2 separate regions of the Homo sapiens genome follow, and region 1 is linked to region 2. The links come from fine-mapping of genetic effects on gene expression. A gene starts in region 2. The other region holds a variant in brackets. All regions are shown on one strand. Distances are between the middles of the regions.

Region 1 (2,922 bases), 460 kb after region 2:
TTTAAGAAGTCAATTTTAAGTCTTCTGGTAGATTGCGTTGTAGTTCAGGCCATCATCATTTGCCTCACTCTCATCATGCTTACTGAAATGAGCAAATGAATAAACTCCAGGGGGAAGTCCCGTATCAGCAAGGCATCATATGCCACAGACTTCTACTAGTTATAGGGCATATACACTGTGTAAAGTGAAAATAACAAGGGTAACTTACTAACCTCCTCAGTGAGAGGCTGTGGCAAAGTCAGTAAGAGGAAGAGAAAGGGTAACTGTTGGCTGAACACCCAAGAGTGTGGGGTAAAGATGGGGCGTGAAGGTGAAGCTGGGCTATGGACAAAGAAAGACCAATTACTTGGAACCCATTTCACTATCATTTATTGACAGCATTCTAACCATCCCCATCAGTGACTGCTGAGGCAATAGAAACCACTTTCAAACAGATTAAAACAGAAATTAACTGTTCTTTCAACCTATGTTTCCTTAAAATATATCATGCCATAGTGTGAGTTTTTAAAGTTTGGGGAATTTTAGGGCTAAAACAGCAGGTGCTGAGCATTAAGTTATTCAACTATTAATTTAACGCCTCATAACTTTAGTTAATGTGACAACTAAAAGAAATTAAAATATAATAAATGTTTCTTAAGGAGAAATCTTATTAATCTTTATTAAAGGTAAGGGTAAAGTAAGAATATATGATAAAAATCTGAATAAAATAAAAAATACTAGTTAAGCGCATGTCTACAGGCACCACTTTAAACATTTTCTATGTATAAGTATATTTAATAATACATTATTGTTATTATTTCCATTTCAAAAATAAAGGAAGTTAAGGACAGACAGATTGGGTGATATGCTGACTCCTATATGTTGGAATTTGAATTAAATCCAATCAGTATTCTCTACCTCCCCAAGTCTGAGTATGCTCCATTGCCTTCAAAAACCAGAAGCAAATATCTGTTAGGATCATAATTGTAAATGAGTTAACCTTACCTGTTGAAAGACTAAGGAAAAAAAAGTAAACCGCTGAGTAAAATAAAATGATACACAGAGATGATAAATTAAAGTTTAGTCAAAGTTATATTAATCAAGTACAGATAAAAGAAAGCAGAGATTATAATGTTGATTTCAGATTTTA[A/C]AAAATAATTCATAGCAAACTAAAATTGAATGTTTCCAAGAAGGCCATTTTTATTGCAGTGTAAAATCTTAGGGATTTTACAATGACTAAACATTACATTAGTCATTTTATATATGTGCCAAATAGCTTGATAGGTATATTGTAAATTCAGCTTTATAAATTTAGAGATTATATTATTAACTCAAATTGGATTTGCAATTGTTATATCTACCTGTTGAATTAAACCTGTATCATTTTGAGTTGTTCTCTTTTTTCCTTGAACTCTCTTGTCTAATATTTATAGAGTTACACTAGGTTTCTTTGGCTTCATATGTGCATGGTTATTATTTTTCATTCTTTTTTCAACCTTTCTGTGTAATTGTGTTGTAGAAGTCTTTTGTAAGTGGCTTATAGTTTTGTTTTTTTAATCTAGTTCTCATTTGTTTTTAATTGGAGCATTAAATCAATTTATAGTTGATGTAATACCAATGTGTTTGGGTTTAAATCTGCCATCTGGTTTTGTACTTGCTGTTCTGTGTTTAGTATTTTTTTTTTACTCTCTTTTCTTGGTTTCCTTTTTATTACAAAAGCATTTTCAATTAAATTTTTTCCCTAAGAATTTTGGAACTTACAGATTGTTTACTAATTTTGGAGACAGTACAGATTCTGTCTTATATACTTCTAGTTGAATATTAATAAATTCATTTGTCTTCCCTTTCAAGAATACAAGGACATTAGTATAGTCCATTTGCACCTCTTCTGACTGACATGTTACTATTGTATATTTTAATTTCATTCTGTTATGATACTAACAAGACATTATCTTATTGTTCTGTTCAATTACTAGTTTATAAATTTACTCACGTATTTACCATACCCACTGATCACCTCACATAAAATTATAAATACCTCTACAGGTACACTCTTGATCCCTCCTGTCTTATTTTGCTTATTTCTTTTTTTTTTTTTTTTTTTTTTGAGACGAAGTTTCGGTCTTGTCGCCCAGGCTGGAGTGCGTGGCGCAATCTCGCCTCACTGCAACCTCCACCTCCCGGGTGCAAGCAATTCTCCAGTCTCAGCTTCTCGAGTAGCTGGGATTACAGGCGCCCACCACCACGCCTGGCTAATTTTTGTATTTTTTAGTACAGACAGCGTTTCACCATGTTGGCCAGGCTGGTCCTGAACCCCTGACCTCAGGTGATCCACCCGTCTCGGCCTTCCAAGTAATCCTGAGTAGCTGGGATTACAGGCGTGAGCCACCGTGCTCGGCTGCTTATTTCTTAATTCTACAAATTTGCCAGTATTTAACATGCCGTATTGTTGTTTTTTTGAGACGGAGTCTCGCTCTGTCGCCCAGGCTGGAGTGCAGTGGTGAGATCTCCACTCACTGCGAGCTCCACCTCCCGCGTTCACGCCATTCTCCTGCCTCAGCCTCCCGAGTAGCTGGGACTACAGGCGCCCGCCACCACGCCCGGCTAATTTTTTGTATTTTTGGTAGAGACAGGGTTTCACTGTGTTAGCGAGGATGGTCTCTATCTCCTGACCTCGTGATCCACCCGCGTCAGCCTCCCAAAGTGCTGGGATTACAGGCGTGAGCCACCGCGCCCGGCTGTATTGTTGTTTTTTAAAAAATTATTTTAGTGTTTATTGTATCTCCTCTTCCAACTAAAATGTATGTTCTGAATACACTGACATTCATGGATTTTTTCCTAGTGCTTAGAACAATGCCTGGCCCCTATAGGAAGCACCAATTATATATTTATTGAGTGAAAGAATGAATTTATTCTTAAGTGTCTTACACTCCATCCTGAGAT
Region 2 (2,922 bases):
AGTGATGGAAGCAGGCTCTGAAAGCTGTCTCTCTGGCTCTGACACACGTACTCTCAAACACCTCCTTAGGAAGTTACTGCTACCTTTTGGTAATAAATGGGAGCTTTTATAGGATCACTGGCTTCCAGTTTTCACCAAGAAATGTAGAATGAAAAATAATACCATTTGCCCTAGCAATCCCATTACTGGGTATATACCCAAAGAAACAGAAATTGTTCTACCATAAAAACACATGTACATGCGTGTTCATTGATATTCATGATAAAGACATGGATTCAACCTAAATGCCCATCAACGGACTGGATAAAGAAAATGTGGTACACATATACCATGGAATACTATGCAGCCACAGAAGAATGAGATCATGTCCTCTCAGGGACATGAATGCAGCTGGAGGCCATTATCCTTAGCAAACTAATGCAGGAACAGAAAACCAAATACTGCATGTTCTTAGTTGTAAGTGGGAGCTAAATAATGAGAACAAATGGACACAAAGAAGGAACAACAGACACTGGGGCCTACTTGAGGAGGAGAGTGGGAGGAGGGAGAAGATCAGAAAAAATAACTATTGGGTACTACACTTAGTACCTGGGTGACGAAATAAGTTATATACCAAACCCCTGCGACATGAGCTTACCTGCACTTGTACCCCTGAACCTAAAATAAAAGTTAAGGGAAAAAAAAATATTTGCAAAGAAAAGGGCCTTGAATTTGCTTCTGATACATACGCGATATAACCTGAGGAAGATCCTCTCAGCAATAAGACTATACATGATGGGGCAAGTGTCAACTGCATACATTTGTCAGGACCAAATTTGTAGCTCATAATTTTTATGCAACTGTTTTTACCTTGGCGAGAATCAATGCTACAAATACTATTCCAAGTCTTAGTATATGGAACCAAACTCAAAACAGATGTCCAGCTAAATGCATTAAAGATCACAAGAAAGGAATTGACAAAGCTGAACACCATAGTTCTTCATTGCTAAGCATCTGAGGAGCGTCTGGTAGCTCCCCTGGGTCAGTCTTTCTATTATGATTTCTAGAACTTTATTTTTTCATTTTTTAAAAAATTCCAGGTGTTGAGAACTCACCTTTTCTAGTAGTTTTCCCTGGGAACACTTGGGGATCTACAAACATCTGAAATTGGAGGATGCTAATGGGCAAGAATCAAGAGAAAGGTAATTCAGAGACGACAACGAAGTGGGAAAGAAATTACAGGGTCAAAGCGAAAGAAAACCAAGCTGCTTGGGTAGGAAGGTGCAATGCAAGCCAATTGTTTACTGTATCTTGTCCGCTCCCAGAGCTGCGCCCGAGCTCTCGCGTTAACTAGGCAACATCGTTGCCACGGTAACTGGGAGGCGCGGGAGGGCGACAGCTCCCTGGACTCCCGGTAACCCTTACGTGCCCGGGGCTGGTCCGTGGGGCGGGGTGAGAGATGCCGGAATCTCGCGAGAGCTCCCGGGGGCCGTTGGGTAGCGTCTTCGCTGTTGCCCTTAGGGACGGCTGTGGGCCTGCTGGGGGTGGGGGCCCGAAGCGCCAGAGATGGCTGCTCAGCGAGGGATGCCCAGCTCCGCCGTGAGGGTCCTGGAAGAGGCGTTGGGCATGGGTTTGACGGCAGCCGGGGACGCGAGGGACACGGCGGACGCGGTGGCGGCTGAGGGCGCCTACTACCTGGAACGTATCCTTCCCGTGGAGGCGCGGCCCGCTGCGCTGGCGGGTAATGGGTGTTGGGACGAAGGCGAGGGCCTCCCACTGGCGGCGCCTTTTGAGCCTTGGGGCCACTCCGGAGGAGCCTCTGTTGGACTTCAAGGTGCTGTTTTTGCCACCACAGTCTTCCTGAGAGCCACTCACTGAATTTCTCGCCCTTAGTAGCCCAGGGTGTCCTGTACCTGTTAGAAGAGTTGGGAGACCTTCCAAGGCCTCATACTTAGTAACCACTCAGTACATTTTGGATGGAGGGTTGCTTTTTATGTTAAGACAGCACAACAAATTGCTTCAACCCTCCTTTCAAATAATGGGTTTCCTAAATAAGCCCTCAATCTTTCAGAAAGCCGTCCCAATAAATTCAACGGAGGAACGTTAGGAGACTAGGGAAAGACCTCTGCCATTGGACTTTAAGGAGCTGAAGCTCAGAATACCCAACCCACGATCCTGTTCGATGGTCCAGTTAATGCTTAAATGCTTAGTTTTGATAGCATTATCTTCCTGAGTAGTTCCAAGTTTGACTACTTAATAATAAATACTAATAGTATAGTTGCTTTTTTTTCTTGAGCAAATAAATAATGATCTGGTGAGCTACACAGCTCAGAGATATTAGGAATAAAGCAGATGGTGATTAGCGATTTTTATCGGAAGTACCAGAAAAATTGAATAACAATGTGTGGATAATTAGGTCCACTATTTCTTGTGTAAGGCTTTAGAACTTCTTTCCTCTAGTTATATAGATTAATTCCTACTAGGGAGACGGGGAGGGTTCATGAGAAAAAGACATGTAACTCCTTTATTCAGGGAGGTAAGAAAGAGATGATTATCTGTTCAGTTCTTAAAGATACCAAGGAAACTCCAAAATCTGCCAAATCTTATTTGTTTGTCCAACTGTAATCCTCTCCAGGTTTAATTCAAGATTTCAGAAATCCAGCAATGATTCATTTCGTGAGCTTTGACAAGCCGATTAACCTGTCCTGACTCAGGCTCAGTACACATCCACACTACAGAGAGCTTTGAAGAATTTAGCTGAAAGATTAAAGAAAATATGTAGTATTTTATTGGGTGCAAAAACGACTTTTACAGGAATAGAAATTTGAATCGCTTGAAATGAATTTGAAAGAAATATATGGGTGCTTTAGTGTCATAAATGAGGTTTTATACTGTTTTCGTAGATGTAACAGGCAGTCTTTTCCAGTGATATTCCTCTTTAAC

Direction of the effects. Alleles are on the strand shown, and positions count from the first base shown. SD is a standard deviation of normalised expression in the study named.
For the expression in iPS cells of the gene that starts at base 1,526 in region 2, A is the high allele of the variant in region 1 and C is the other (large effect, 1.7 SD a copy in HipSci).

The links.
Region 1: its variant is fine-mapped to the expression of SPAG16 in iPS cells (HipSci, PIP 0.93).

What each region holds. Positions count from the first base shown.
Region 1 is chr2:213,740,484-213,743,405 of GRCh38, forward strand. All of the region lies in intron 10 of SPAG16 (sperm associated antigen 16), which reads left to right. Among named protein-coding and RNA genes, the nearest start is that of MIR4438, 16 kb to the right of the region's middle. The variant A/C (reference allele first, on the strand shown) is at 1,130.
Region 2 is chr2:213,282,939-213,285,860 of GRCh38, forward strand. It overlaps SPAG16 (sperm associated antigen 16), which reads left to right and starts at 1,526. Exons shown (of 16, transcript NM_024532.5): 1 at 1,526-1,681. The coding sequence starts at 1,546. SPAG16-DT (SPAG16 divergent transcript) reads right to left here and starts at 1,271. Exons shown (of 3, transcript NR_161186.1): 1 at 1,095-1,271. RefSeq lists enhancers at 1,559-1,688, 1,729-1,778, 1,849-1,928.